Homo sapiens: one gene and its partners. The protein of the gene in region 1 purifies or fractionates together with the protein of each later gene. This does not show direct contact. Each region holds a gene or a part of one and is shown in the gene's direction. Other genes may lie near its edges.

What was found.
Region 2: the proteins of SPRTN (region 1) and MCM6 purify together in Homo sapiens (affinity purification with western blotting; 2 studies listed by BioGRID, with this or other methods). This does not show direct contact.
Region 3: the proteins of SPRTN (region 1) and CAND1 purify together in Homo sapiens (affinity purification with mass spectrometry, with the first as the bait; 2 studies listed by BioGRID). This does not show direct contact.
Region 4: the proteins of SPRTN (region 1) and POLD1 purify together in Homo sapiens (affinity purification with western blotting; 2 studies listed by BioGRID, with this or other methods). This does not show direct contact.
Region 5: the proteins of SPRTN (region 1) and PSMC2 purify together in Homo sapiens (affinity purification with mass spectrometry, with the first as the bait; 2 studies listed by BioGRID). This does not show direct contact.
Region 6: the proteins of SPRTN (region 1) and PGM3 purify together in Homo sapiens (affinity purification with mass spectrometry, with the first as the bait; 2 studies listed by BioGRID). This does not show direct contact.
Region 7: the proteins of SPRTN (region 1) and DDX17 purify together in Homo sapiens (affinity purification with mass spectrometry, with the first as the bait; 2 studies listed by BioGRID). This does not show direct contact.

What each region holds. Positions count from the first base shown.
Region 1 is NC_000001.11:231,341,293-231,344,792, forward strand, and holds part of SPRTN (DNA-dependent metalloprotease SPRTN), read left to right. Parts: intron 1-3,500. UniProt on the Homo sapiens protein: DNA-dependent metalloendopeptidase that mediates the proteolytic cleavage of covalent DNA-protein cross-links (DPCs) during DNA synthesis, thereby playing a key role in maintaining genomic integrity.
Region 2 is NC_000002.12:135,839,126-135,842,284, reverse strand, and holds the end of MCM6 (DNA replication licensing factor MCM6), read left to right. Parts: intron 1-1,333; coding exon 1,334-1,450; 3' UTR 1,451-2,659; downstream 2,660-3,159. UniProt on the Homo sapiens protein: Acts as a component of the MCM2-7 complex (MCM complex) which is the replicative helicase essential for 'once per cell cycle' DNA replication initiation and elongation in eukaryotic cells.
Region 3 is NC_000012.12:67,272,358-67,275,857, forward strand, and holds part of CAND1 (cullin-associated NEDD8-dissociated protein 1), read left to right. Parts: intron 1-1,142; exon of another isoform or gene 1,143-1,269; intron 1,270-3,500. UniProt on the Homo sapiens protein: Key assembly factor of SCF (SKP1-CUL1-F-box protein) E3 ubiquitin ligase complexes that promotes the exchange of the substrate-recognition F-box subunit in SCF complexes, thereby playing a key role in the cellular repertoire of SCF complexes.
Region 4 is NC_000019.10:50,387,347-50,390,846, forward strand, and holds part of POLD1 (DNA polymerase delta catalytic subunit), read left to right. Parts: intron 1-313; exon of another isoform or gene 314-458; intron 459-3,500. UniProt on the Homo sapiens protein: As the catalytic component of the trimeric (Pol-delta3 complex) and tetrameric DNA polymerase delta complexes (Pol-delta4 complex), plays a crucial role in high fidelity genome replication, including in lagging strand synthesis, and repair.
Region 5 is NC_000007.14:103,357,643-103,361,142, forward strand, and holds part of PSMC2 (26S proteasome regulatory subunit 7), read left to right. Parts: intron 1-3,500. UniProt on the Homo sapiens protein: Component of the 26S proteasome, a multiprotein complex involved in the ATP-dependent degradation of ubiquitinated proteins.
Region 6 is NC_000006.12:83,179,766-83,183,265, reverse strand, and holds part of PGM3 (phosphoacetylglucosamine mutase), read left to right. Parts: intron 1-287; coding exon 288-421; intron 422-1,334; coding exon 1,335-1,530; intron 1,531-3,298; coding exon 3,299-3,456; intron 3,457-3,500. UniProt on the Homo sapiens protein: Catalyzes the conversion of GlcNAc-6-P into GlcNAc-1-P during the synthesis of uridine diphosphate/UDP-GlcNAc, a sugar nucleotide critical to multiple glycosylation pathways including protein N- and O-glycosylation.
Region 7 is NC_000022.11:38,489,312-38,492,811, reverse strand, and holds part of DDX17 (probable ATP-dependent RNA helicase DDX17 isoform 1 precursor), read left to right. Parts: intron 1-696; coding exon 697-756; intron 757-3,500. UniProt on the Homo sapiens protein: As an RNA helicase, unwinds RNA and alters RNA structures through ATP binding and hydrolysis.

The sequences.
Region 1 (3,500 bases):
AGTACTCATTATCCAAAGTGGGACCAGAAGTGTTTCAGATTTTTTTTTTTTTTACTTTGGAATATTTGCATTATACTTACTGGTTGAGCTTCCCTAATCCAAAAGTCCCAAATCTGAAATGGCTTTAGTGAGCATTTCCTTAGAACTTAACCTTTAATCATCTTGTAAGTGCTCAAAAAGTTTTAGATTTTGGAGCATTTCAGATTTTGGATTGTCAAATTAGGGATGTTCAACCAGTATTAGTATCAGACTAAAGACTTCAAGGGAAGAAGTTTTACTAGAGGAAAAGTGGGATATTTTATAATAATAAAATAATCTATTAAGCAACAATACATAATCTCTCCAAAAGTAATAACATAACTTTAAATTTTATGAGGCATAAATTAGCAGAAGCAAAAAGAATATACAATCAGGCTGGGTGCGGTGGCTCACGCCCATAATCCCAGCACTTTGGGAAGCTGAGACAGGCGGATCACTTGAGGCCAGGAGTTTGAGACCAGCCTGACCAACATGGTGAAACCCCGTCTCTACTAAAAATACAAAAATTAGCTGCGTGTGGTGACACAGCCTGTAGTACCAGCTACTCAGGAGGCTGACGCACAAGAATCGCATGAACTCGGGAGGTGGAGGTTACAGTGAGCCGAGATCACACCACAGCACTACAGCCTGGGGTGACAGAGCAAGACCCTGTCTCACTACAGCCTCAACCTCCCAGGCCCAAGCAATCCTCCCGCCTCAGCCTCCCAAAGTGCTGGGATTACAGGTGTCAGCCAAGACACCCAGACTCATACTTGAAGAATGTTAACACAACCTTCTTAGTAACCCAATGAATAAGCGGAAAAAAATAATACACATTTTAAAAAGTTGAACAGCATGATTAACCAAATCAGCCTTAGAAGGAGCCCTAACTGGAAGAGTTGCTTAATGAATATGTATTGGGTAAATGATTACATAAACACATGAGAAAAAAATGTTTTTAAGTAGTGGGTGAGAAGAGAATGGGGAATGTATAATAGTATCAAGTGAGCATTTCCTGTTGGCAGAAAGTTACAAAATGACATTTTCGTCAATGACAGGCCCCATATATAACAGTGGTCCCATAAGATTATAAGACCATATTTTTATTTATTTATTTATTTTTATTTTTTGTTTTTTGAGATGGAGTTTTGCTCTTGTTGCCCAGGCTGGAGTGCAATGATATGATCTCGGCTCACTGCAGCCTCCGCCTCCCTGGTTCAAGGGATCCTCCTACCTCAGCCTCCCAAGTAGCTGCGATTAAAGGTGTGCGCCACCACGCCTGGCTGATTTTTGTATTTTTAGTAGAGGCGGGGTTTCACCATGTTGGCTGGTCTCAAACTCCTGACCCCAGGTGATCCTTCTGCCTCAGCCTCCCAAAGTGAATGGGATTACAGGTATGAGCCACCATGCCCGGCCAGGACTATATTTATTTATTTTTTTTTTGAGATGGAGTCTCGCTCTGTTGCCCAGGCTGGAGTACAGTGGCGCATCTCCACTCACTGCAAGCTCCGCCTCCCGGGTTCAGGCCATTCTCCTGCGTCAGCCTCCCACATAGCTGGGACTACAGGCACCCGCCACCATGCCAGGCCAATTTTTTGTATTTTTTTTACTAGAGACGGGGTTTCATCATGTTAGCCAGGATGGTCTCAATCTCCTGACCTCGTGATCCGCCCGACTCAGCCTCCCAAAGTGCTGGGATTACAGGCGTGAGCCACCACACCTGGCCAAGACTATATTTTTATTGTACCTTTTTTCTTCTTTATATTTAGTTGCACAAATACTTACCATTATGTTGCACTTGCCTACAGCATTCAGTACAGTAACATCCTGTGCAGGTTCGTTGCCTAGGAGCGGCAGGCTATACTCTATAGCCTAGGTATATATACTCTATAGCCTAGGTATATACACTCTATAGCCTAGGTATATATACTCTATAGCCTAGGTATATATACCCTATAGCCTAGGTATATATACTCTATAGCCTAGGTATATATACTCTATAGCCTAGGTGTGTGTATATATATATATATATTACATAGGCTATACCATTTAGGTTTGTGTAAGTACACTCTTAAGATGTTTGCACAATGACAAAATTGCCTAACAATGGATTTTTCAGAACATATCCCTGCCAAGTGAGGCACAACTGTAGTTACCTAAATCATAGAGAAGGGGGTTCAGAAAAGGAACAGACTTTATCTGGTTGAGGAGGTCAAGAAAAGCTTTATAACTGTACATTTTGTTACTACCATCACCACTCCTGCTGCTCACTATTGAGCACCTATTGTGTGTCAGACTTTGGACTAAACGTCGTCTTTACCACAGCCATGCAAAATGAGGATATCCCATTTTAGGGATGAGGAGCCACTTGGAGCCTGTCCCAGGTCTCATGCTGTGATTGTGGGTTTAGGTTCCAGTTTCCCTGACTCTAAGGCTCTTGTTCTGTCCCCTTTACCATTCAACTCATCACTCCTGCGATTAAAACATGGAGAGGTGAGCATTAAAGGACGAATTGTACTTTTGACAAGCAGAGATAGGACAGGAGGCTACTCTTGGCAGAAAGCATGGGAATAATGTGAACAAAAGTGAGTTCAGACAACTGGGGGCATATTTAGGACTAGAGGTAGTTCATTTTAACCCGATAGAACAGTCATGGAAAACAGAGGTATTTTGGGACTGTGTTGTGTATAGATCCTTGAATTAAGACTAAATATGGAAAATGATAGATATTTAAAAAGTTCAGTACCATTTTCAAGATGTTTTTTAATGTTTAATTAAATTGAACCAAAAATCAGGAACCTAAATTTGTTTCTCCTTTATGAGAATAGATCTTTATCATTGCTCTAATTTAGAACATTGAGAAACTTTTGCAGTACCTTTCTTGAATTTGAGTCTTCTTCGTTGAGCGGCATTTACTTGAAAAATAAAGTTCTGGCTGGGTACAGTGGCTCATGCACGTAATCAGATAGATGGATTGCTTGAGCCCAGGAGTTGACCTGTCTGGGTAAGATGGTGAGACCTTGTCTCTACAAAAAATTGAAAAAAAATTAGCCAGGTGTGGTGACATGCGCCTGTAATCCCAGCTGCTCAGGAGGATGAGATAGAGGGATCCCTTGATGCCAGGAATTTGAGGCTGCAGTGAAATATAATCATGCCACTGCACTCCAGTCTGGGTGAAAAAGTGAGACCCCATCTCTGAGAAATAATAAGATAAATAAATAAAGTTCCTTTTAAGAGATACAGTTGATAATTTTTAGAGGGATATATGAATGACCAAGTTAAAATGTTTGATTCTCTCATTTTTCTGTTCAGCATAATTTTATAAGACTAAAATTCATTAATGACAGTCTAGTTCTTCTGATGGAAATTGTTTTTTAAAAAAATTATGGAGGATCATGAAAAAGGTATGTCTTTGAAGATCTTTCTGATTTTTGCTTAAAAAAATTATTTATATTTTTTAGAGCAAAAACCCCAGCAATCTT
Region 2 (3,159 bases), on another chromosome or scaffold:
CTCAGATCAGGGTCCAGAGTTGCTTTTCTAGTGGTGGGACATGTCTGTGTGCTCCTTGGGATCAGTGTAAAGTAAAACGACCCAGGCAAGGAATCTGCTTCAGGACTTTGGAACACACTGTGAAGCTAACTGATCTAAACTTGAATTACCTATTTATTTATTTATTTATTTATTTATCTTTTGAGAGAGTCTTGCTCTGTTGCCCAGACTGGAGTGCAGTAGCATGATCTCAGCTCGCCGCAACTTCCGCCTTCTGGGTTTAAATGATTCTCTTATCTCAGCCTCCAGAGTAGCTGGGATTACAGGTGCCCGCCACCACTCCCAGCTAATTTTTGTATTTTTAGTAGAGATGGTGTTTCACCATGTTGGCCAGGCTGGTCTCAAACTCCTGACCTCAGGTGATCCACCCACCTCAGCCTCCCAAAGTGCTGGGATTACAGGCATGAGCTACTGCGCTCAGCCTGGATTACCTTTTAAAATTTGGCTTACCACCTGAACTAATTTGCTACAGAAAACTAGAGAGCTTATACTGTGCTGATGAGATATGATGCTTCCTATGAAGGTATGTTAACACATAGAGTGAGTGCTTGAAAGTGTCCAATCTAACTTCAGGGGTAGATTTGAAAGGGCAATTTTTTAAAAAGTGTCCAGTCCCCCTTAGTGGCTTCAGTGTTTATACTGTGGAGCCTTGCCAGACTTCTTAGGATCAAATCACAGTTTCCTGAGTTCCTTTCTATGGGCTTGGCTAGGAGCTCTTCTCATTTGTGGACAGTTTTGACTAACCTGTAATTATATCGTGGGCTTAAAATCTGTCATCAAGATTTTAAGCCAGATGGCATGTTCTACCTTTTTTTTTATTAGCTCAGAGTGAAAAATTTTTCAGATGAATTTTCATAGATTCTTCTCCTAACTCTATGAAATGGTGGTATATGAAAAAGTTCAGTGGTCATAATTAAAAATTGCTGAATGATATTAAGTATGAAACAGACTTCCAATTAATTAGAAGATTTTGCAGAGTTGTTTAACCTTAAAATTCAAGCATTACTTCCTTTTTTGAAGTTGTATTTACAAGCATTTGATGTAATATATTTAAGTATTTCTTAATTTTCCACAAGGGGTTTATGGTATGAAAAGGTCAGCATCCTACTAGGAACAGGGTTTAGCAGAGCACTGATAGTGATTTTTAAAGTGTGGTCCTTTTCCTAGGAGTTTCTAGTTGGGAAATGAAAGAAAATGTTGATAGCAAACACTCGGAAGAAGGGTCAAGTCTTGTATATCTGGACATTGGTATAATACTGCTTGAAACCTGAGGACAAATATTTGTGTTTCACAGGATCATGTTCTAATTGAGCTCACCCAGGCTGGATTGAAAGGCTCCACAGAGGGAAGTGAGAGCTATGAAGAAGATCCCTACTTGGTAGTTAACCCTAACTACTTGCTCGAAGATTGAGATAGTGAAAGTAACTGACCAGAGCTGAGGAACTGTGGCACAGCACCTCGTGGCCTGGAGCCTGGCTGGAGCTCTGCTAGGGACAGAAGTGTTTCTGGAAGTGATGCTTCCAGGATTTGTTTTCAGAAACAAGAATTGAGTTGATGGTCCTATGTGTCACATTCATCACAGGTTTCATACCAACACAGGCTTCAGCACTTCCTTTGGTGTGTTTCCTGTCCCAGTGAAGTTGGAACCAAATAATGTGTAGTCTCTATAACCAATACCTTTGTTTTCATGTGTAAGAAAAGGCCCATTACTTTTAAGGTATGTGCTGTCCTATTGAGCAAATAACTTTTTTTCAATTGCCAGCTACTGCTTTTATTCATCAAAATAAAATAACTTGTTCTGAAGTTGTCTATTGGATTTCTTTCTACTGTACCCTGATTATTACTTCCATCTACTTCTGAATGTGAGACTTTCCCTTTTTGCTTAACCTGGAGTGAAGAGGTAGAACTGTGGTATTATGGATGAGGTTTCTATGAGAAGGAGTCATTAGAGAACTCATATGAAAGCTAGAGGCCTTAGAGATGACTTTCCAAGGTTAATTCCAGTTGTTTTTTTTTTTTTTTAAGTTTATAAAAGTTTATTATACTTTTTTAAAATTACTCTTTAGTAATTTATTTTACTTCTGTGTCCTAAGGGTAATTTCTCAGGATTGTTTTCAAATTGCTTTTTTAGGGGAAATAGGTCATTTGCTATATTACAAGCAATCCCCAAATTTTATGGTCTTCCAGGAAAAGTTATTACCGTTTATGATACTAACAGTTCCTGAGACTTAGCTATGATCAGTATGTTCATGAGGTGGAGCAGTTCCTGTGTTGCAGCTTTTAACAACAGATGGCATTCATTAAATCACAAAGTATGTTAAAGGTCACAAAAGCAAAATAACTGTCTGAGGCTAAGGCCCACGTGGGACAGTCTAATACCCATGAGTACTCAACTTGCCTTGATGTCTGAGCTTTCCAGTGCAATGTGAATTTGAGCAGCCAGAAATCTATTAGTAGAAAGCAAGACAGATTAATATAGGTTAAAACAATGATTTAAATATGTTTCTCCCAATAATTATCTCTTTCCCTGGAATCAACTTGTATGAAACCTTGTCAAAATGTACTCCACAAGTATGTACAATTAAGTATTTTAAAAATAAATGGCAAACATTAAAAACAAGAGTGAATACTCAAGTAGATTTGTCATGGGATTTTTATAAGAAGACTGGTATCAGGTAATGTATCTTTAAAGACTAGGCTGCTCTGCTGACGTAGTAACCATTTTTTATTCCTTTACTTTCCTAATAGCCTTGCTTTCACTTAAGAAAAAAAAAGGCTAGGCACGGTGGCTCACGCCTGTAATCCCAGCACTTTGGGAGGCCAAGGTGAGTAGATCACCTGAGGTCAGGAGTTCGAGACAAGCCTGGCCAACGTGGAGAAAACCTGTCTCTACTAAAAGTACAAAAATTAGCCAGGCATGGTGGTGGGCACCTGTAATCCCAGCTACTCAGGAGGTTGAGGCAGGAGAATTGCTTGAACCCAAGAGGTGGAAGTTGCAGTGAGCTGAGATCATGCCACTGCCCTCCAGCTTGGGCGGCAACAACAACAACAAAAAAAGATTCCCAGGCTTCACCCTCTACAGTCTATGGAAAGTCATGGGAGTCTATTAAAAAAAAACAG
Region 3 (3,500 bases), on another chromosome or scaffold:
TTCTGAGAGGCATGGACATGACTAATTACAAAAGGTTGTTATAGGCATAAAATTTCAGGTCTATTTATATAATTACATAGTTCATTAATACAGAGAAGGTAAAGAAATGAATGCAGGCTTAAAAATTTGGAAATTTCTGCATTTTAAAAGAATCTTTTTGTAGGACTATTAAGGCTCAATTTATTGAAAAATTGTAATATTTCTTTTGTGTTTTAGTATTGTGCATTATTTAAAAATGAGATATTAAGACTTAGGAGAAATGGGGAAGCATTAGGATGAGAAATGCTGAGATTAGGAACTCTGCCATATGCAGGGTTTTTGTTGTTGTTGTTGTTTTGGTTTTTTTTGTTTGTTTTTTTGAGATGGAGTCTTTTCTGTCGCCAGGCTGTAGTGCAGGGGCGCCATCTCAGCTCACTTCAACCTCCGCCTCCCAGGTTCAAGCAACTCCCTTGCCTCAGCCTCCCAAGTAGCTGGGATTACAGGCACACACCACCACGCCTGGCTAATTTTTTGTATTTTAGTCAAGACGGGGTTTCACCATGTTCGCCAGCATGGTCTCGATCTTCTAACCTCGTGATCCACCCGCCTGGGCCTCCCAGAGTGCTGGGATTACAGGCCAGCACCGCATCCACCCATGCAGGGTTTTTTGTTTGTTTGTTTTAAAAAAAGGAGACTAGGAGCTCTTTTATTAAAAAAAGGAGGAGGCATTTGTGTGTCTTAATTACTAGGATAGTGCCTGTTACTTACTAGCCTCGGTTTAGTGAAAAGTTATTAATGAATGCCAATTCAAATAAAACCTTCAGAAGAAAAATGAAGAAACATTCCTTGGGACAGTACCTTAGAACAGTGCTTCTCATCACTTCCTCCCTAAAAGAAACACTTCTGGAGTGTACTGAGACTTTTTGCCAGAAAACATTTGTACCAGTGTATATAGTTATTTTAAGGACCTCTAGGGATGCATGTTCCATAAAGGAATAAAGAGTAAACCTTATAATGTAGCCAATAGATAGGGGATTCGGTTGATACCAGAGTGAAAGCTTTAATGTGGATGAACCATGTGACACTCCATTTGTGAATATTAATATTGAATATTTGGTAGGTTGAGGTAACTAAGTTCTTTTCTTTTTTTTTTTTTTTTTTAGAGATAGGGTCTCGCTCTGTCACCCACGCTGGAGTGCAGTGGCACCACCTCAACTCACTGCAGCTTCAACCTCCTGGGCTCAAGCGATTTTCTTCCCACCTCAGCCCCCAGAGTAGCTGGGACTACAGGTGCGCACCACCACACTCAGCTAATTTTTTTTATAGAGATGGGTATCACCATGTTTCCCAGGCTGGTCTCAAACTCTTGATTTCCGGCAATCTGCCCACCTTGGCCTCCCAAAGTGCTGGGATTACAGGCTTGAGCCACTGTGCCCAGCCACTTCTTTTATTTTCATATTCTTCAACCACCAGTTGATTTAAAATATTCCAAGGAATCAAGAGCTAAAGAAAATATCATTATCTTTCTATATATAATAGTTAATATTAATGCTTACTGTGAGCTTGATTTTTGTTTATCCTTACAACTTTAGTAAAAGAGGATAATAATAATCTCGTTTACAGTTGAAGAAACTGAGATTTGGAGAGATTAAGTACTTGTTTAAGGTCAGTTAGATAGTAGGTCTGGGACTTATAGGATCTCTTTACCCCCAGAACATGAACTCTTGACCACCCAGCTATGTCACTTCTCCAGGGTTTAGACTAGTGGATGTTAAGATTCAGGCCTTAAATTTCATTTCCCTCTAAAATTAGGCTTATAGAATATTTCATGCTAGAAGATGCTTTTAATAATTCCTGAGGACTACAAAAAGTTTAAGATCTGGTGCTTACTTTCCCTAAATCTACATGCTTGTTGAATAGTTAAGACACTATTGTAAAAAGATGAATAACCCAGGGCAATATGTAATTGTCAGGCATTAAGTGGCAGAGAATATTAAAGCAAGAAGATTCATGTCCATGGAGAGATTTGAGCCAGGTGTTGAAAATGAAACTCTAGATAGAAAGTGAAAATGTAAAGCACACGATACAAAACTTCACTGGGGAAGAGGGAATAGATAACCTGACTGTAGCTGGATGGATATTGTCCACAGAACTCCTTAAGAATAGGGACCTTGTCTTACTAAACGGAATCGTTCTCTTTGTCTGGCTCTGGGCCATGTGGGTTCTCAGTAGGTGCTTGTTTAAGTAGAATTGGGTTTTATTTCCATTATATAGGGATTTTAGGAACCTCCAGAAAACCATTGTAAAATCAACTAAACTGTTTGTTTAAATACCACTTGATAGAATCTTCTTAAAATAATTCACCCCATTTTGGAATGCAAGTTTTTCCCAATTTGATAAAGGTTTATATTACCAGATTTATTTATTTAAGTGTTTTGGATATTGGACGGTATTTTCTTTTGGAAACTGTTTAAAATGCTTGTAAAAAAAACTCAAGCCTTTTAAGGAATCAGGTTTTCAGAGCTGGAAGGAACCTTAGAGATCCTATCATATAGCTGAAAGTACAGTGTGGGTGGGCATTTACAATAACATAACAGGAAATAGTGAAATTATCTTAAGTACTTGTGCTTGGAGAAAAGCAGGTTTAATCAGAAGAAATAGATTTGCAGAGATTAAGAAGGTGATTTCTGGGCACTTTTAAAAATACTTAGAAGGTTGATGGCAGTAACTTTCTTGATTTTACTTTGATGTTTTTTTCTTGATATATACTATGCTAACTGGTTATCAGCAGTGATTAGGGCTCACCACTGAGAAAGAGGAGGAAGGGACCTCACAGAGAAAACTGGGAAGAAAGATTAGTAAAAATTAGATTTCTTTACATGAACAATATTAAGACTATTCCAATTTAGGTCTTGTGTGGTGGCTCACGACTGTAATTCCAGCACTTTGGGAGGCCAAGGCAGGCAGATCATCTGAGGTCAGGAGTTCATGACCAGCCTGGACAACATGGTGAAACCCCATCTCTACTAAAAATACAAAAATTAGCCGGGCATGGTGGTGCATACCTGTAATCCCAGCTACTCGCGAGGCTGAGGCAGCAGAATTGCTTGAACCTGCGAGGCAGAGGTTGCGTGAGCAGAGATTGCACCACTGCACTGTGGCCTGGGTGACAGAGGGAGACTGTCTCAAAAAGAAAAAAAAAAAAACTGTTCCAACTTAATTCATAGCACTCTAAGGAATAACTGAGGAAAAGTGAAATAGCAGTGGTGTATGTGCAGGATCTCTGAAAGGTAATTGGTGTACTGAGTGATAAAATTGACCATATCAACTAGATTTCTGGTTGGAAGCAAGAGTAAAATTGTGTTTATGTATGATGGGAGAGGCTGTGGTGAGAGTTATTGTGAGTGCAAGGTATCTATCGATCTAGTGCATACCTAGTGTAAGTTCCAGACTGTGTTACTCATCACTGTGTTTGCAGAGTAGAGTTCCTTATGTTGGTGCCCTCAAAATACTTGTTGAAT
Region 4 (3,500 bases), on another chromosome or scaffold:
GTGTCTCACTCATCGAGAAAACTGGTGTCTGGCCTGCAGCGAGCACGTGGTGTCATTTTGTTGCTGAATCTCTGTTAAGTGCTTGCTACCGAAGGGTCGTGAGAGGGGCAGAGGACAGTGTTTGCCAAGCTCTCATCCTGTGCCAGGGCCAATGAGAGGGGACACACAGGGGCCTTTCCTTCCTAATGCTGCTGTGCCTCCACTAACAAGAGCCCAGGTTTTGCCCCTGGTGACACCGTCCCTCCCACCGCACCCCCGCAGCCACAGCCAACTGACCAAGGGCAGCCAGTCAGCTCCTTCCTTCCTCCTCCAGCTTCAGCACTGACTCTGGGCTCCCACAAGCCCCTGCGCTTCCTCTGTCCCACCCGGGTCTCTCCTCGCAGATCATCACTCCCTGTCCCTCTCTGGCTACTTGCACAACCCGAAGCCAGAGCCGCTAACGACGCTTGCTTCTTCCTGTAAGTCACACATGTACGCGGTTGTCACCCAAAGAGCACAAACGCAGTCAAAGTCTTCCTCACACAAAACCCCCTGCACACGCTCACGGCTGCACCACTCACAAAAGGTGGAAGCAACCCTAATGTCCATCCACTGATGAAGGGATACGTCAGACGTGTTCTAGCCATACAGCGGAAAAGTACTCAGCAAAAAAGGGACACAGCACTGACGAAAGGCCGCCACACACATGAGCGATGAACACATTCAGAGAAAGCAGCCAGACACAAGAGGCTGCATATTCCAAGATCCCATTTATAGGAAATGCCCAGAATAGGCAGATCCATGGAGACAGAAAGTTAGATGAGTGGCTGCCAGGGGTGGGGGCAGATGGGCTGAATGCAGGGAGAGAGCTAAAGGATTTAGGCTTTTTGGGGTGATGAGAGAGTTCTAAAATTGACTGTGGTGATGGTTGCCTAACTCTGAACATACTAAATACCATTGAACTATATATACTTTAAATGGGTGAATTGTATAGTATGTGAATTATAGCTCAATAAAGCAGTTAGCAAATGAAGTCTTCTACCCTGTCCCCCAGGAAACCAGTTTCTTAGCTCTCCTTATAGAATGATGCATTAAAAGCAAATAGATTTATACATATGCCCTGCATTACAATAAAAAAGACGTCTACATACTCCCTGCATTACAATAAAAAAGACGTCTACATACTCCCTGCATTAAAAGCAAAAAGATTTCTACATACTCTTCTGCCCACCTTGTAAATTTGTTACTATTTTCATTTTATATATTTCCCCCTTAATATTTTGAAAAGTTTCAAACCTGCAGAGAAGGTACAAATTGAGTACAGTGAACAGCCATGGCCCTTTGCCTAGATTCACTGGCTGTTGGCATGACACCTCATTTGCTTTATGCTTTATCCAAGCACATGCATATACCTGTACCTTTTGTCCTTTTTTTGGCTGAACTATTTGAAAGTTGTGGTCATCATGATACTTCACCTCTGAAAACTCCAGCAGTTAACTCTTTTTTTTTTTTTTTTTTTTTTTTTGAGACGGAGTCTTGCTCTGTCACCCAGGCTGGAGTACAGTGGTGCGACCTTGGCTCACTGCAACCTCTGCCTCCCAGGTTCAAGCGATTCTCCTATTGCAGCTTCCTGAGTAGCTGGGACTATAGGCGCGCACCACCACATCTGGCTAATTTTTGTATTTTTAGTAAAGATGGGGTTTCACCATCTTTGCCAGGCTGCTCTTGAACTCCTGACCTTATGATCTACGTGCCTCTGCCTCCCAGAGTGCTGGGATTACAGGCATGAGCCACCGCACCTGGCCTCTTTTTTTTTTTTTGGTACAGTATTTTACTCTGTCATGCAGGTTGTAGTGCAGTGGGGTGGTCACAGCTCACTGCAGCCTCGACCTCCCCAGGCTCAGCTGATCCTCAGCCTCTCGAGTAGCTGGGACTAAAGGTGTGTGCCACCACACCCTGCTAATTTTTATATTGTTTATAGAGACAGGGTGTCACCATGTTGCCTAGGCTGATCTCAAACTCCTGGGTTCAAGCAATCCCCCTGCCTCGGCCTCCAAATGTCCTGGGATTACAGCCGTGAGCCACCGTACCTGGCCTCCAGCAGTCAGCTCTTAAGAACAGGGATGTCCGCCTGCAGAACTACAGTGTCATTGTCATCATCATGCAGTTTAACATGAGACAGTGACGTTATTGAATAGACGATTCTTATTTAGATCTGCCACGTGTCCCTGTAATATTCTTCAAGGCTATAAATAATTTCTTATTTTTTTTTTTTTTCCAAGACTGAGTCTTGCTCTATCGCCCAGGCTGGAGTGCAGTGGCACTATCTCGGCTCACTGCAACCTCTGCCTCCTGGGTTCAAGCCATTCTCTTGCCTCAGCCTCCCGAATAGCTGGAATTACAGGCATGCACCACCACGCCCGGCTAATTTTTTTGTATTTTTTGTAGAGACGGGGTTTCATTTTGGCCAGGCTGGTCTCGAACCCCTGACCTCAGGTGATCCGCCCGCCTTGGGCTCCCAAAGTGCTAGGATTACAGGCGTGAGCCACCATGTCCAGCCTGTTTTTTTTTTTGTTTTTTGTTTTGTTTTTTTTTTCTTTTTTGAAACAGAGCCTCATTGTCACCCAGGCTGGAGTGCAGTGGTGCGATCTTGGCTCACTGCAACCTCCACCTCCCAGGTTCAATCAATTCTCCTGCCTCAGCCTCCCGAGTAGCTAGGATTACAGGCGCCTGGCACCACGCCCAGCTAATTTTTATATTTTTAGTAGAGACAGGGTTTCACCATGTTGGCCAGGCTGGTCTCAAACTCTTGACCTCAGGTAATCCACCCACCTCAGCCTCTCATAGTGTTGGGATTACAGGTGTGAGCCACTGCGCCTGGCCAATAATTTCTTTTTTTCTTTTCTTTTCTTTTTTTTTTTTCAAGTTACATGAAGTAAATTTATTATTTACAGCTAGGCAACAAGGGAAAACCGAAGCATAGGATTCATTGTGAGCCAATCTCCCGAGACTCAGGAAGGTTGCCCCGGGAGGATGGAGTCTCATTTGTGTGTACCCCATTTGTACCTGGAAAGCAGACCATCTTGGGTTTTATATTCTGGAGGCAACATGACATGTTGGGCTAAAATGATGAAGGACATCCTGTTTCTAGGAGGGACTGGAACAGAGCCTGGGCTGTTTCAGCCAGTCCCTCCTTATCTCAGGATATTGCATTCCTAGCACATTCTACAGTTATTCTTGAGAACTATTTTTTTTTTTTTTTTAGTATTTATTGATCATTCTTGGGTGTTTCTTGGAGAGGGGGATTTGGCAGGGTCATAGGACAATAGTGGAGGGAAGGTCAGCAGATAAACAAGTGAACAAAAGTCTCTGGTTTTCCTAGGCAGAGGGCCCTGCGGCCTTCCGCAGTGTTTGTGTCCCTGGGTACTTGAGATTAGGGAGTGGTGATGACTCTTAAGGAGCATGCTGCCTTCAAGCATCTGTTTAACAAAGCACATCTTGCACCGCCCTTAATCCATTTA
Region 5 (3,500 bases), on another chromosome or scaffold:
GATCAGTATTCAGTGTTTATATGATTATGGCTATGTAAACACTATTCACAAAGAGCCAAGTGGTAAGCTGTGATTGCTTTTCCTTTCTTGTACCACTTCTTTTAGTGGTGGTTGTTATAACGTCTTGTTTTTTCATTTGCCTGGTTTTCTGTGCATATATTATGAACTCAACCTCCCACTTTCTCTTGATTGTCTAAACTGCTCTTCAGATGCATTAGATCTGTTCGTTTTCTCTCAGTTATACCTTAGTTGCATCTGGTGTTCTCTCGGTTTCATTTTCCTTAAGTTTTTCCCAGCACCTTCTGACCTGCTTTGGTTTGGACCAGTTGTCCTTTATGCCTGTTTAATGACAATTGTTGTCTGACTTCTCTACCCTGGAGATTGCCCTTTACCTCTCTCCTGTTGCTTGGTCTAATACATCCTCTGGTAGCTTCTTGGAAAAGGGTCAGTTGGGAGGTAATATTTTGAGACTGCATATGTCTGAAAGTGTCTTAGCTGAGTATACAGTTCTTTTCCCTTCAAAATTTTGAAGGCGTCGTTCTGTTGTCCTTTGCCTCCCAGTGTTACTCTGAAGCCATTCTGATCCTCAGTCCTGTATATGTGGCCTAATTTTTCTCTGAAAATTGTAGAGTCTTCTCTTGTTCTATTTTGAAATTTCATGGTGATGTGCCTTGGTGTTGGTCTGTTTTCATCCATTGTCCTGGGCTCTCTTGTCCTTTAGTAAGGCAAATCTTCTTGAAACTATTTGTTAATTTCTTTCCTTCCGTTTTCTTGGACCCTTATTCCTGAATTCTCTTATTTGGATATGGGGCCTCCAGGATTGCTCCTCTAATTTGCTAATCTTTCCTTCCTGTTTTTCTTCTTTTTGCCTTTTTACTTTACTTTCTATGAGCTTTTCTTTATCTTTGAATTTTTCTGTTGATGTTTTTTTCCTCCCATTTTTCTTCTCGTAGGTTTTTAATTTCTCAGGTAAAAAAACTCAGGTTTTTTATTTCAAGGCTCTTATCTTTATTCTTTCATTTTTGTGTGTGTGTTGAATGTTCTGCTCTTATATCATGGTTGTAATATGTTCTTATCTCTCTATGGTAAATTAAAAAATCTAGGTACATTTTTCTAGGCCGTATGAGGGGAATTTTCTTTTTTCTGTAAAGCAGTTAGAGGGAAACTTTTCATATAGATTTTTCATAACAGACAGACTAGCTAAAGAGCCCTATACCCCTACAAGATCCCAGGCCTTAAAGAAAGCAAAGATTATTTTGAAAAAGTTTCCATTGATTTTAGTCTCATACTCTTTGCTTAAAACTCTTGATAAAATTTGTGTATGTGTAATTTTTAGCTTGTGAATTTTTTTTTTTTTTTGAGACAAGGTCTCACTTTGTTACCAAGGCTGGAGTGCAGTAACATGATCTCAGCTCGCTGCAGCCTCTGCTTCCTGGGCTCCCACCTCAGCCTCCCAAGTGGCTGGGACCACAGGTGCATACCACCCCATGTCTGGCTTTTTTTTTTTTTTTTTTTTTTTTTTTTTTTTAATTTTTAGTAGAGACAGGGTCTTGCCATGTTGCCTGGGCTGCTCTTGAACTCCTAGGCTCAAGCCATCTGCCCACCTTGGCCTCCCAAAGTTCTGGGATTACAGGTGTGAGCCACCGTGCCCAGCCAGCTTATGAATTTTTTTAATAACAATCTTACTGATATAAAATTCAGATATCATGAGGTTCACTCTTTTAAAGTATACAATTTAGTGATTTTTAGAATATCTAGAAAATTGTGCATTGATCATCACTATCTAATTCCAGAATAGAATATTTTTGTCACCCCAAAAACAAACCCAATACCCATTAGCAGTCTTCATTCCCGTCTCTTTCCAGCCCCTGGCAACCATTTATCTACTTTCTGTTTCTATGAATTTGTCTATCCTGGACATATCATCTAAATGGAATCATATAGTACATGGCTTCCTTCACTTAGCATATTTCAAGGTTCATCCGTATTCTAAAATAGATGGAACTTTTTATGGCCAAATAATATTCCAGTCTAATTTCTCTATCTGTATTCACTATTGGTGAGACATTCTTCTCATCATTCCTATAAACTCTTTAGATATGGTTTCCTTTAGCTTTTTGAAAATATTTCTTGTACTGATTTAAGGTTTTTGTTTGACTGGGCGCAGTGGCTCATGCCTGTAATCCCAGCACTTTGGGAGGCTGAGGCAGGTGGATCACTTGAGGTTGGGAGTTTGAGATCAGCCTGGCCAACATGGTGAAACCTGTCTCTACTAAAAATATAAAAATATTAGCTGGGCGTGGTGGCAGGCGCCTGTAATCCCAGACACTTAGGAGGCTGACGCAGGAGAATTGCTCGAACGTGGGAGGCGGAAGTTGCAGTGAGTCAAGATCGCGCCACTGCACTCCAGCCTGGGCAGCAGTGAGATTCCGTCTCAAAAAAAAAAAAAAAGTTTTGTTTAATAACACCAACATCTAGGCTTCTTAAGGGACAATTTCTATTGACTGATTTTTTTCCCCTTATGTATGAGCCATAATGTCATACATAAGGGAAAATGCATTTCATAATGTTTTGCATCTCATAACTTTTTGGTGATAACTAGACATTTAAAATAATGTAATGTGTCACCTCTGGAAATCAAATTCTTCCTTTCCCCAGGGTTTGGTATTATTGCTGTTTGTTGTTCTTGTTTTTCCTTTCAGGTTTTTTGGTCAGCCTCTTTTTTTTTGGTAGAGAATGGGTATAATTCTTCTTCCCTAGCAAACATGGTTGGTAACAGAAAACAGAGTCCTTCACACAATTATGCTATCAGGACAAAGCATTCTTTTTTAGCCTTGACCTCCTGGGCTCAAGTGATCCTCCAGCCTCAGCCTCCTCAGTAGCTGGGACTACAGGTGCATCCCACCACACCTGGCTAAGCCAAAGCATTCTGTACCTTACTTTTAGCTCTACCTATGTGCGCACTCCACAGGCTATTTTTGTATTTCTCTGTAATTCTTGCTGTGGCTTATGTAGCAGCTTTCTAATGTGAGTTCTGTTTTTTGTTTTTGTTTTTCTTTAGTAGATAGATACTATAGAAGGGGAAAGGCGGTTGACTATTTTATACTGTGATGTGCATGGCATTATAAATTCATTTTTACCAGGCCATATGGAAATGAATATAATTAAGTTAAAAATAGCTTCTACTGGCCGGGTGCAATGGCTCACGCCTGTAATCCCAGCACTTTGGGAGGCCGAAGCAGGTGGATCACTTGAGGTCGGGAGTTTGAAACCAGCCTGGCCAACATGGTGAAACCCCGTATATATTAAAAATACAAAACAATTAGCCGGGCGTGCTGGCGCATTCCTGTAATGCCAGCTACTTGGGAGGCTGAGGCAGGAGAACTGCTTGAACCCAGGAGGCGGAGATTGTAATGAGCCGAGATCGCACCACTGCACTCCAGTCTGGGCTCCAGAGCAAGACTCTGTCTCAAAAAAAAGAAAAAGAAAAAAAAACAAGC
Region 6 (3,500 bases), on another chromosome or scaffold:
TGATTCATCTGAATTATGTAGTTTGCAATGTTACTGGAAACAGAACTCAATTATTACTTGTCTGTATTGCTTTATATTTACATTGTTACCTGTTTATATGTAATGATTGGTTTTTTGGCTTCTTATAGTCATTTATATTTCTTTTTAAGATCATTTTTATGTTTTCTAAGATGTCTGAGATGACACAAAAGGATTTGTCACCCTGAAATTCCTACACATGAATGCATTTAAACTTTTTTCTCTTTGTTAAGAAATGCGGTGAATTGCTTTTTGTATTTCTATGACAGATTATGGCTTGTTAACAACACCCCAGCTGCACTACATGGTGTATTGTCGAAACACGGGTGGCCGATATGGAAAGGCAACTATAGAAGGTTACTACCAGAAACTCTCTAAGGCTTTTGTGGAACTCACCAAACAGGTGAAAAGTTTATTGAACATGGTTAAAGTTAAACAAATGAATAAAGTAACATGGTCTACTGAACAAATTATCTTGTTTGTCATGCCTCCTCTTTCCTTTTCCAAAGATGCTGCATATCTCCTTTTTTGTTTTTCTCTAGGGCTACACAAGGTTCTGGTCTATGTATCCTGCTAACTTACATTGGCGTTTACTTGGCAAATTATGTAGTACATTCTGAGATACTTTGGGGAAGCAAACATGGTGGGGGTCTTGACGATGGTATCATAAGTATTCATTCAGATGAATTTGATCTTAGTTAATGTAGGTGCTGTTGGCTTAATACCTGAGGCATGTACTATTGAGATTTTCTTCTAGGTATATTGGCTTGTTAAATGTAGAGAGATTTGAGAAGTATAATTCGTTTGATCAACAAATATTGAGTATATGTCCTTACCAGGCACAATTAACTAAAAGCCCTTGCTCTCATAGAACTTATAATTTGGGGTGAGGATAGCTGGGAGAGGAGACAATTAGAAAAAAAACAAATCTGCCTGATGATGATGTCACATACTATAAAAAGAATGACATGTCATTACTGCCCATTTGTCTGTGTGCTTATTCTTGCATTTGAATGGCTCCCTTGTAATATTACTTTTAAGAGACCCTGTTAATTGAGACTAAATTCTAATAAAGCTCTATGCTATAAGTTGTTCAATCAGCAAAACTATTCTGTTGTTCCAGGTGTTTTTAAATTTTACTTTAGTGTTTTATAATTTTAAAAATTGAAAAATGAACACAATTATAATTGATAAAATTTAAAAATTAAAATGAGTTAACTAAATATTTACATATGCACATATGTATATATGCTTTATATTTCACATTTATTTTTATAACTTGAAATTTTTCTTCCATGTGTCTTTTTCCTTTGTAGGCTTCTTGCAGTGGAGATGAATACAGATCACTTAAGGTTGACTGTGCAAATGGCATAGGGGCCCTGAAGCTAAGGGAAATGGAACACTACTTCTCACAGGGCCTGTCAGTTCAGCTGTTTAATGATGGGTCCAAGGGCAAACTCAATCATTTATGTGGAGCTGACTTTGTGAAAAGTCATCAGAAACCTCCACAGGGTATGTCGTACTAGCACTGCAAAAATTTGTTTTTAATGCTCTTTGAAGCCAATCTCACTTATAAACTAAGGTGGTAAAGTGAGTTAAGAATCTTGCAGCTATTCCTGGCTCTGCCACATTTAGACATTGAGAAGTCTTCCCACTCTCAGAGCCATTGAAACATGGTCTGCTCTCTCTGCCTGTAAATCACACCATTCCTCATAGTCTACAGGAAATCAGGTGGGGAAAGCAAAGTCAGGAAATGGCATTCTAGAGCAGTGGTTCTCAAACTGGCATGTGTCAGAATCACTTTGAGGGCTTGTTAGCACACAGATTCCTGGGCTCCACTTCTGAGTTTCTGGAGGTCTGGCATAGGATTTGCATATGATAGAAATTTGCATTTCTATCAAGTTTGCAGGCTTTGTTCCCAGTGCTTGTCTGGGGATCCCTTTTTGAGAATCACAGATCTACAGGGGAGCATAGTAAGTATTATTAGATACCTTATCTGAATTAAATACACTATGGAAAGCAAATGTAACTCTGCTTATACAGTTGTTAGCAATCAGTGTTTTCCACTCAGTGCAGAATAGGAGGAAGACTTTTCTTCAGATTTTAGTTGTAGTAAGAGGTGTTCTGGATTTATCTGCATTATAGACCCTAAATTATTTGCTTAGGCCAAACCTGACTTGCAGATATGTTTTGTTTGGCTGGCTGCATTTGTGTGTTTGTCTGTGTGCCACTGTTTAAAAATTCCGTGACTTCTCTTATATATTGGAATCTCTAGCATCTCTTTACCAAAATCAGAAAATGTTCACACATGGCATTAGTCCACTACAGTCAGATAGATGCTGCTCCCCTAAAATAGGACATGCATTCTGGAACTCTACAGACTTCATCCAGTTGCCTCATTCATTCATGTTATTATGCTTTACTTAGTAAGCATTTAAAATGTCAGTGTAGTCAACCAATTTGAGCTCCTTTTCATTGAATTGCTTGTTTTGACATTTACTTGACAGTTCAGTTCTGCCACTTATTTATCCATTTCTTAAATACTGAGCTCTTACTCTCTATGCTCTAGGCTTTGGGACTACAGTATGAACAAAACCATAGTCCTTGCTTTCCTGAAGCTTGCATCATGTCCTTTCATCAATCTTATGATCCCATTCCTGACAAAAGCCTTTTACTTCTTAGTTGTCTCATGTTGAATTTGTCACTCTGCTGCTGTCATGGCTAAGGAATAGCCAAATTTTCTAATAAATTTGATGTGACAATTGCTGAGATTTCAGCAACTTTATGTAAATTTCACAGGCCAGTTATCTCTCAAAGTTATAATTCTTTGCTCTTAATTATCAGTGTTTCTTTTTATTGGTGGTATGAACAAATAAAAATCATTTCTGTTAGAATTAAAGCACATACATCATCTAGTGCTGATTATTTTTTCTATGTAAAGGAGATCACGGTCCTAGGTAAATTACATTCAGAAATACATGTAGCTTTCAAAAAACCTTTATGGGACACCTGTCTAGCCAAACCAACCTGCTTATAAAGTGGAATTTTATGGTAGTATTATAGCAAATATCAGCATAGATTTTGAATGCTCCTTTTTTCACTTTGCAGTGAAAGAATTTGACCTGTAAAAACCACTAATAAACTATGTACTATTTAAAGATTATACACTATTTAAGATTAAGACATTGATTTTTAGGTGGATAATTTTAAGAGAAAATTCTAAAACTCTTTATAATAAATTCTTAGACTGAAATGCATGTTAAATTATCCTGTGTGCTAGGAATGGAAATTAAGTCCAATGAAAGATGCTGTTCTTTTGATGGAGATGCAGACAGAATTGTTTATTACTACCATGATGCAGATGGCCACTTTCATCTCATAGATGGAGACAAGATAGCAACGTTAATTAGCAGTTTCCTTAAAGAGCTCCTGGTGGAGGTATGGTGGGGGGATTGGCTACCCTCTAAAACAAGACTTAGTAG
Region 7 (3,500 bases), on another chromosome or scaffold:
CATATTTTGTTTAAGAAATAAAATGTGGCCGGACACAGTGGCTCACGCCTGTAATCCCAGCACTTTGGGAGGCTGAGGTGGGCGGATCACCTGAGGTTGGGAGTTCGAGACCAGCCTGACCAACATGGAGAAACCCCGTCTCTACTAAAAATACAAAATTAGCCGGGCATGGTGGCATATGCCTGTAATCCCAGCTATTTGGGAGACTGAGGCAGGAGAATCGCTTGAACCCGGGAGGTGGAGGTTGCGGTGAGCTGAGATTGCGCCACTGCACTCCAGCCTCGGCAATAAGAGCGAAACTCCATCTCAAAAAAAAGAAAGAAAAATAAATAATATGCATACCTTTTGGGGGGAAATTCAGTTCTTTTCATTCTACATCTTTTGAACTTGTTTCCTACTGACCCCCAACTTTTGGTTGTGTCTCATTTGGGAAATAACTTTAAGGGGAAAAAAATCTAGCTCATATTAATTATGTAACAAATTGCCACACTCTCTTAACGGTATTTCATTATTAGTAGAGGTAACTATTGTGCTGCTGAATATGAGTGTAATAAAGATTTTCAAAAGAATCACTGTCAGTCATTACAAGAGCTTGGGATTTTCTGGCACCATTATTTGAAATTTTAACATGGTTATGTAAACAGATCAGATAGCAAGGAATGCTTATTTGATGATGATTATTGTTTGTTTTTACAGAGTTCCGTTCTGGAAAGGCACCCATCCTTATTGCTACAGATGTAGCCTCCCGTGGGCTAGGTTTGTATAGATAGGTGTCTCTGTCAATGGTATATGTATCTTTTGGTTTAAAGATTCGTCATTTCAAATTCAGACTTCAAGTTTAGAAAGTTGTATATACATGTGGTTAGATAAATATTTGAAAGAAAAAAATACAAAGCGTGATTCTCCCCATTCCCTGCCCCCCCCACAATTTTTTTTAACTTTGGTTTCCCCCACCCCCCTTTTATTTTCAAAGTCTCTTCCTGCTCCTAACAAACAGGCTTTGGTCTGCAGCAAGGCCTAGGCATGACTATTCAAACAGAGGGAGAGGAGACAGACAGCTGAATGGCTCAGCTTCTCTCTGGTGGTGGTTTCTGGCTGGATAGAATAAGCCTGACGAAACCTAGCTATTGTAAGCTAGTTTCTTCAGTTATTCTTTTCCCTATCCCTGTCTAAGCTAGATATATACAGAGAGGTCCAGTTTTATGAATGCTTATTAGATGGAATTTTATAAGTCTAATGCAGTATCAGAATAGCAAATATGTGTATTGCCCAGTTTAATTTACTGAGGTCAAATTATCATGGGCACTTGGCTATCCCCTCCTACCCATGCACTTATCTGTAGGTGTGTTATCAACTGATGATTTTCTGGAGTTTTTGACCCATTACCATTTAAGATATACAGAGAATTTTATGGTAGTTTAGCCCACTATTCTGAGCTAAACAGGTCTAACTCAGAACTTCTATATTTTAAAAAAAAAGATTATTTGTATTACAAGGAAATCCTTAAATTATTGACAGGTATTTAATTTGCCCAGTAAGGTGAGAAGTACCATATTATTCCCTTATACTATATAATATAAAGAGAACAGGTATTCAAACTGGAATACAAAAGTAATGAAGCCTTTTTATGCATTGCACTCATCATTCCCTCCTTCAGAGGTGGTGACCTGCAGCCATGATGGAAAGTTCTCTCTGCCCCTCTGCCCTCTGAGGTCATGTCTGGATCTGTGCCATTAGAACTTGGGCCTGTTGGGAGAGGAGGCGGAGGCCTGAAAGCAGTTTACATAAAGCTTTCAGTAATGGTTGGTTTTTAAACAGGCTTGCTATGTGCTGGTAGCTTCTTTGTGCATCTTGCCTAGACAATTAAAAATATTTGCTCCATGTCCCCTTGCATTTCTAAACCAAATTAATTGGCTACCATTAGAATAACTTAGACTCTTCATCCCACCCCCACTCATCCAAGTGAGGGGAGAGGGAAGGTACCCGAGTCTGTTTCTTGTTACTCAACATCAGTGCTTGTTTTGGGCCCCTTTGTTTGCTGCCTTGTAAAAAATCAAAAGAGGGAGAAAACCCACCAAAATGGCAGAATTCTGACCAATGTCCTACAAGATCCTGGAAAGTGAAGGCTTCTACCTCATAGACAGGGGTGCAATTTTCAGCTGAGTCACCAGGGCCTTTTTTCACTTCCTGTCAAGCGATGGTCTCTTAAATGTTCCCTTCAGGTAAGTTCTTTGATTCCCATAATTTTATAATAGTCATCCTTAGGCTACCACTTCCCTTTCCACTGGGATATTTTTTATTTTTCCTTTTTTTTGTTTGAACTACACACTGTTAAACTAAAAGTATTGAATTTATTTTGTTTTGTTTTTTAACAGAAGCTTTGATATCAGCTGCAGATCACTCAATACATGGCCGAGACAAATCTACATTGGCCGGAAGCAGCTCTAGATGAGCCTCTTGGCTAGACTTAGTCCCTCCTTATTAGTGATTGGCGATTCAGGCCATGTCATAGGGCCTTTCAGACAAAAGGTTCTTATCCCAGTCAGCTGGCCAAAACATTAACTTTGGATTTCTTACCCTGCTACAGCATCTTCTAGAAAGGCAGCAAGATAATATTGTGGCAGTGCACAGATAACATCAGGGTAGACTTGACTGGAGAAAACCAAATTCTGCGCTTGCTCCTGTGTGCCCCCATCCAGCTGTGCATGCACACACAGGACACCTTTCTAGTATGAAGAACTTGCATCATGTCTGCCCTCTATTGAGCACCCCCTTCTAGAAATACTTCCAAGTATTAGCATGTGAACTGTTGACTCCACCCTGGTGCTTTCTGCTAGGAAAGCACACTTAACGCATCCAGTGTAGTAATTGAACTTGTTCTACTGCCATGGTCATATGCAGTGGGATTGCATAAGGAGCATTATCCTAGCTCTGAAGATACCATGGAGTAGAATTCCCCACCCCCTGTCTTACATCCACCCTGGCCCTGTAAATTCTTTTTTCCTTTGTTGCGTCAACGACCCTAGCCGGAGACTCAAGCTGCCCCCTGTGATAAGTGCCTTCTCGTCTTTCTGGTGTGATTCAGGACTTTAGGGGTCAGTAAAGACCGAGGAGCCTTTATTGTAATAAGAAACAGACATAATGCCCCTTCTTCACAAGCCCTGTAACAACAGCTAATTTTTTTTTTTTAATCTCCCCTTTCTCCCTTGAAATTAATCCAGTCTGGGCAATAGATGCAGTCTGACCCTTTGGATGTAACTTACATTTTTTTTTATTAATTATTTTTTTCTACAATCACCCCAATTATCCTTGGGGGAGGCGTTGGAGGACCTGAAATTTTTACCCGAACCCAGGTTCTCCGGCGCTTGGCAACCAAATGGGGCTACAGAGAAGCATCTAAGCCAGTTCACAGAGCGAGCGTGTGTGGGGACTTCTCACTGCCACGGACCCTTGATGCATGCTCCCCGCGCTCCAGTGGTCCCGTGTCAGAAGGCGGAGTT